Regions from separate parts of the Homo sapiens genome. Here region 1 is linked to region 2. Evidence: fine-mapped expression QTL. Tissue or cell type: tibial nerve. Region 2 holds a variant in brackets; the other region holds the start of a gene. All regions are shown on one strand. Distances are between the middles of the regions.

Evidence for each region. PIP is the estimated chance that this variant, and not a neighbour inherited with it, causes the effect.
Region 1: KNDC1 starts here. The variant in region 2 is fine-mapped to the expression of KNDC1 in tibial nerve (GTEx, PIP 0.93).

Annotation. Positions count from the first base shown.
Region 1 is chr10:133,158,572-133,161,319 of GRCh38, forward strand. It overlaps KNDC1 (kinase non-catalytic C-lobe domain containing 1), which reads left to right and starts at 1,648. Exons shown (of 30, transcript NM_152643.8): 1 at 1,648-1,998. The coding sequence starts at 1,897. RefSeq lists enhancers at 2,019-2,608, 2,609-2,748.
Region 2 is chr10:133,187,353-133,190,100 of GRCh38, forward strand. It overlaps KNDC1 (kinase non-catalytic C-lobe domain containing 1), which reads left to right. Exons shown (of 30, transcript NM_152643.8): 7 at 1,187-1,301; 8 at 2,246-2,317; 9 at 2,400-2,461. Among named protein-coding and RNA genes, the nearest start is that of KNDC1, 29 kb to the left of the region's middle. The variant G/A (reference allele first, on the strand shown) is at 1,597.

The sequences.
Region 1 (2,748 bases), 29 kb before region 2:
GAGCAGCAGCAGCGCTGAGTGACCCAGGTGTGGGAAATGCCTGCTGAGGGGTTTTAGGCCGCAACAGCCGAAGCTGACACGGCCGACTCCAGGAGCCTGTGAGTTCTGCATTTTACCAACCGCATGCACGTCTTTCCAGGAGTGCTTGCCCTATGGCTGCCCCCCAAATTATGGGGTTACCTTTGCCCCCTATTCAGTGTCTATATCCTCACCCCAAGCCCGTGAGGTGACCTGGGCACTCGGTGACAAAGTCCTGTGCTTGTGGGGTCCCTGGTGCCTTCCCTTTGGGGTCACGTCAGCCCGGCGTTCCCCCGGAGGCACAAGTCTGGGTGGCAGCTGAGAGGCGTCAGGGGCACATCCAGACCTGACAAAGGAGGCGGCCCCAGCCCTGCAGCAGAGGGCCCAGGAGCCCAGGGGCTCAGCTCCAATGTCCAGGTCTGAGCACCAGGGTGCAGCGGGATCAGGCTCCTGGAGCAGAGTCTGCCTGCCACTTCCGCCTCCTTCCAAGACAGGGACTGGGGCGCTGCAGGCCCTGTGGGGCCCACAGAGAGAGAGCTCAGGGACAGCTGGCTGAGGCCACCCTCTGTGAGACTCCTCCTCTCCAGCTCCAGCCCACTCCACCTTGGCTTGCTGCCCAAGCTTCCAAACACCCAAGGATGGGGGAGGCTGCACCTGACTGCTGACTCGGTGGACCAGGGTGGGCCCCAGGGTGGGCATTTTCAATAAGGTGGGGCTGCCTGGCTGGACGCAGGGAGTCTGCCCAGCACCTGCCCCACTCCCAGCCTCCGGCTTCAGTGCCCACCTGGCTCCCGGGGAGCTGAGCCCCTGAACTCCCTGCCAGGCCAGAGTGACAGCCCGGGTGACCGACCAGGGGACAGAGTGCTGGGAATTCACGTCCCTGAACACACTGCACCCTCCCACTCTGCGGTCAAAAGCCCTGCTGCTCCTTCAAGCCAGGAGCATGGATTAAGTACCTACTGTGTGCCTGGCCAGCCACACGGACGGGGAGCTGACAGCCGGGCCCTGAAGCCGCCCTCTCTCCTGTGGGAGTTCTGGGGGTGGCCGGGGAAGGTGAGATTCTCCTCCACCCTCCCTGCCTCTTGGCCGAGCTTGGGGCTATCCTGGCTCTTCTGACCGCGGCACTACCGTGGGCCGGGGTCACCCTGGCGCTGAAGAAAGCCCCGGGGGGCCTTTGGGGCAGGAAGAGGTCAAGAGCCCCAGGACCCCCCAGGGTCCCCCAGGACCGGGGAGGGTCGGGTGCCCAGTGGGTCTCTCCGATGCCTCCAGGTGGGGATGAGGCAGCGTTATTGCCCCACCCCCAACATCCCCGGGCCTCCGAAAGACCCTCGCTCAGGAGAGACCCCGGCCCAGCGACCGCCCCGCCCCCCACCCCGGGCCCCGCCCCCCACCCCGGGCCCCGCCCGGCCCTGCCCAACGCCGCTGCAGAGGCCACCCCGGGACTGCGGCAGCCCCGCCCGGCAGCAGCGGGGGTGGGACGGGGGCGGCGGGAGCCGGCGAGGGGGTCTGCCCGTCCGAGCTTTCCTGGGCGCCGGCTCCGCCCCTCGACCCTTGGGGCCCAGGTGGGGCGCAGACCCCGTGGCTCCCCGCGGAGGCCACACGCCTGGCTCCGCCCCCGGTGCCTCCCCCAGGAAGGAGCGACGTTCCCTAGGCGCCGGGTCCGGACAGCGCCGCGCAGCCCCCGCGCACCCCGCGCCCCCCGCGCCCCCCGGGCCCGCCCCGTATCCCTGACCGCGTCCCCTGGAGACACTGCGGCAGCGGCGGGCGGGCGGGGGCGGGCGAGGGCCGGGCGCGTCTCCATGGAGCCAGGGCGCGCGTAGCCGAGCCCAGCCCAGCCCAGCCGGAGGCCCCGGGGGCGGTGCGCGGCGCGGCCGCAGGATGCAGGCCATGGACCCGGCCGCGGCGGATCTTTACGAGGAGGACGGCAAAGACCTGGACTTCTACGACTTCGAGCCGCTGCCCACCCTCCCCGAGGACGAGGTGAGCCCCCGGCCCCACTGGGGGGCCCCTTCCGCCGCCGAGGGGTCCGCGGAGAGCGCCCGGGGGGAGGACCCGGGAGGGGCTGTGAGCTCCCGCCTCCCCAGGCGCCCTCCATGGCCGAGGGGTTCCCACCGCCGTTCTCAGCCCCCGCGTTAGGATTTTCACCCGGAGGGGACAGCACCCCCGAATGCGCACGGGACGGCGGCGGGTGGGCAGCCCCTGCAGAAGTTGGTGCGCGGTAGCTCCTGGTGGAAACCCTGGCGGGACAGTGTGGGGGCAGCAAGGAGGACGGAGGGGGGTCTGCTTACTCCCTGCCGGGCCCCAGGAGGCCAGCGGGGTGCAGAGCAGCAGAGTCCAATCAGGCGCCGCTCAGGAGCTGGGGGATGAGGTCCCCGGAGCTGAGGTTCAGGAGCGGGGGGTGGGGGGAGCGCTGGATGACTGCCCCCCGAGACTGAGAGCTGCTTCCTGCTCTCTGGTTTTCCGGGCCTTCACCCAAGACCCCCCTACCCCGCAAGGTGCAGAGGGGCTCTGCCTGCCATCTGCATACCCTGGCGCTTCTGCTCATGGACCGCCCACCCTACAGCACCGGCTGCCCAGACGCCACCTTGGCTGGGTCTGACCCTGTAGCTCAGCTCTGGCTTGGCTGGGATGGAGTGGACAAGCCAGGCCCGGAAGCATGAGAGGTGGCCCCCAGGGGATACAGCAGCTCCCAGAGGGACCCTCACCCTCCAGGGATCCGAGATCTGCCAA
Region 2 (2,748 bases):
TTGGGCCAAGGCCTGGCCAAGTGCATTTTGCCCTCCTTGGCTCCTCAGTGAGCCACCCCCAGCTGTGTCCCCGTGAGCTCCTCCGGGCAAGGTCACCTGAAGTCAGTGGCCTGCATGCAAGTCCATCTGCCAGGCAGCGCCTGGCCCGGGGACGGGGGTGCCCTCAAGCCACCAGGCCTCGTTGATCTGAAGGACAAGGGCGCAGTGCCCCGTCGCCCTCCACCACTCTCCCTGGCGGCACGCCTTCCCACGCACAACAGCCTACCTTCCCGAAGGGCACACGGAGGCACAGGGTGGCCGAGCCACCTGTTGGAGGGTGGACTTTGGTCCCAGCTGTCCGTGAGGCCTTGGAGTGGAGAGTGGCCTCCCAGGCTGAACGCATGCCTGGTGTCACGGTGTGTGTGTATGTGAGAAAATGCACCGAACAAAAGCCACCACTTCAACCCTCTGCAAGAGCACAGCTCAGCGGCATTGGGTGTGTTCACGCTGTTGCACAGCTGTCCCCATCAGCCCACACGAAACCCCAACCCCCGAGCCCGCCCCCTGCACCCCGTCCCGCCCTCCACCTCCATGAGCCTGGCCCCTGCACCCCGTCCCACCCTTCCCCTCCATGAGCTCTGTCCAGGGGCCTCGTGGGAGTGGGATGGACAGAGCTGTGTGTCTGGTCTCTTCACTGAGCCCACTGTCCTCACGGTTCCTCCCCAGGGAGCCTGCGTGAGAACCCCCCATCCCTGTCCCGAGGCCAAGCGCCATCCACACTGCCCCTGCGTCCGTCCGTGGATGCCTGGGTGCTCCCCGTGTTGGCTATTTCGAGCCGTGCTGCTGGGAACATGGGTGTGCACGTATGCGTGAGCCCTGCCCTCGGTTCCTCGGGGAATGTGGCCGTGTGGAACTGCTGTCACCTGGGAGGTGTATGTTGAGCTTTTCAAGGAACGGCAGCACTGTCGTCTGCAGTGGCTGCACCGTGGGACGTTCCCACCCACAGGGCCAAGGGCCCCAGTCTCCCCACGGCCCCCACACGCTGGAGTTGACTTAGGGACCTCCCTAGCCCTTCTATCAGGTGTGGGGGGCGCCTACTCAGGGGCTGAGTGGGCCTCACCCTGGCCTGTCCCCCGGACATGCCTCTCCAGGCGGCGGGCCCTGGCAAGGGGTGTCCACACTGACCTCGCCGCTCTCCTGCCCACAGTGGGTGTCCCTGCAGGACCTCCTGTCCCAGCTGGGCCGGCCCTTCCGGGAGTACGAGCTGTGGGCCCTGTGCCTGGCCTGCCTCCGCGCACTGCAGACACGCCCTGAGCACCCAGGTGACGCACGCACCATCCCATCCCCCCCGCCGTCCCCACCCCCCACTGCTGTTCCACCCCCCACCGCCGTCCCACACCCCCGCCGTCCCACCCCCCACACCGTCCCACGCCCCCCCACTGTCCCATCACCCCTGCCGTCCCATGCGTAACTGGCCCCCACCTGAACCAAGGGACCCAGGGGCAGCCAGGACAGTGTCTCCGGTGAACGGAACAGGCGGCTCCCGTCTGGAGCACCTTGTGGGTGCCTGCTGGGTTGCAGCACCGAGGGAGGTGTGGGGACAGATGCCTGCAAGGT[G/A]GGCCTTGAAACCGGTGACTGTGCCGTAAAGAGGAACGGGGACTTTGCCATGGCCCTCGCCCACACATTCTCAACACAGTGACATTGTCCCCAGGGAGGCAGCAATTGGCTTTGGAGTGGGGAGGGAATCTTCAGCATTGCACGGGTCTGCCCCGTCAAAGCCTAGCCCTGCCAGACATCAGGGCAGACGGACGGTGCATCTGAGACGTAAAAACGTCCTGGGGGTGATGAGGGCAGCATCTGAAAGGGCTGGGGGAGAGGCCATCGGAGACACACCCGGCTCCAGTGTCCGTCCACCGTGAGCCCGTGGCTGCCCCGTGGGCCCTGACTCGGGACGGGGCCTGTGACACGGGGGCTTCAAGTTACCGTGTTCTCCCTGCCGCTTGGCTCCCTTTCAGCCGCAGATATGCCGCTGCAGCCACTGTGTCGGCTGGGGCAGCGCTACCCTCGGGGAGGGCTGGGAGGAGGCAGCTCCGAGGACCCCGGGGGCTGGGGTCAGGCCATGTGCGTGCACTGGCAGGTGCGTGCCCGTGCAATGGGGAGGCTGGGGGGCTGCCCGGCCTGACTGAGGCTCCGCAGCTCCTTCCCCCCAGCCAGCCCCAAGTGCGGGGCAGCATGCATACCCGCCCTGACCCAAGCTCTGCCACAGCCTACCTGTGTCTGGACTCCGTGCTGGTTGCTGAGGACGGGGCTGTGCTCTTCCAGCCACCCCCTGCCAACGGTGAGTGTGTGGGTTCCCCTCAGGCCGAGTCCAGCACCGGCTCGCCAGGGGTGAGGAAAGCTCAGTCGGGTTTCTCTCTTAGGTTCCTATGACTCGTTCTTTCTGGCTCCCGAGCTGGCAGAGGAGAGGCTGGTAACTGAAAAGGTACCCGGGCCCTCCCCACCCTGCCCCAGCCCTGCCCCCAGCCCTCGGGGATGCCACGTCCCCCATCTGTCCAGCAGCCCCCCATCAGGACTCGAGGGAGTCAGGGCAGCCCTTCCTGGCCAGGCGGCCACAGGCGGTATCTGCCAGCAGGGCCGTGGCTCTGGCCGGGGCACCAAGACAGGGCTTGGTGTGGACGGCACTGGCCATGTGCACTAGAGCTGCGCCTCCTGGCTCACGAGAACTAAGGGCTAAACAACCAGGGATGTGTATAAGGCACCTGTGAAACA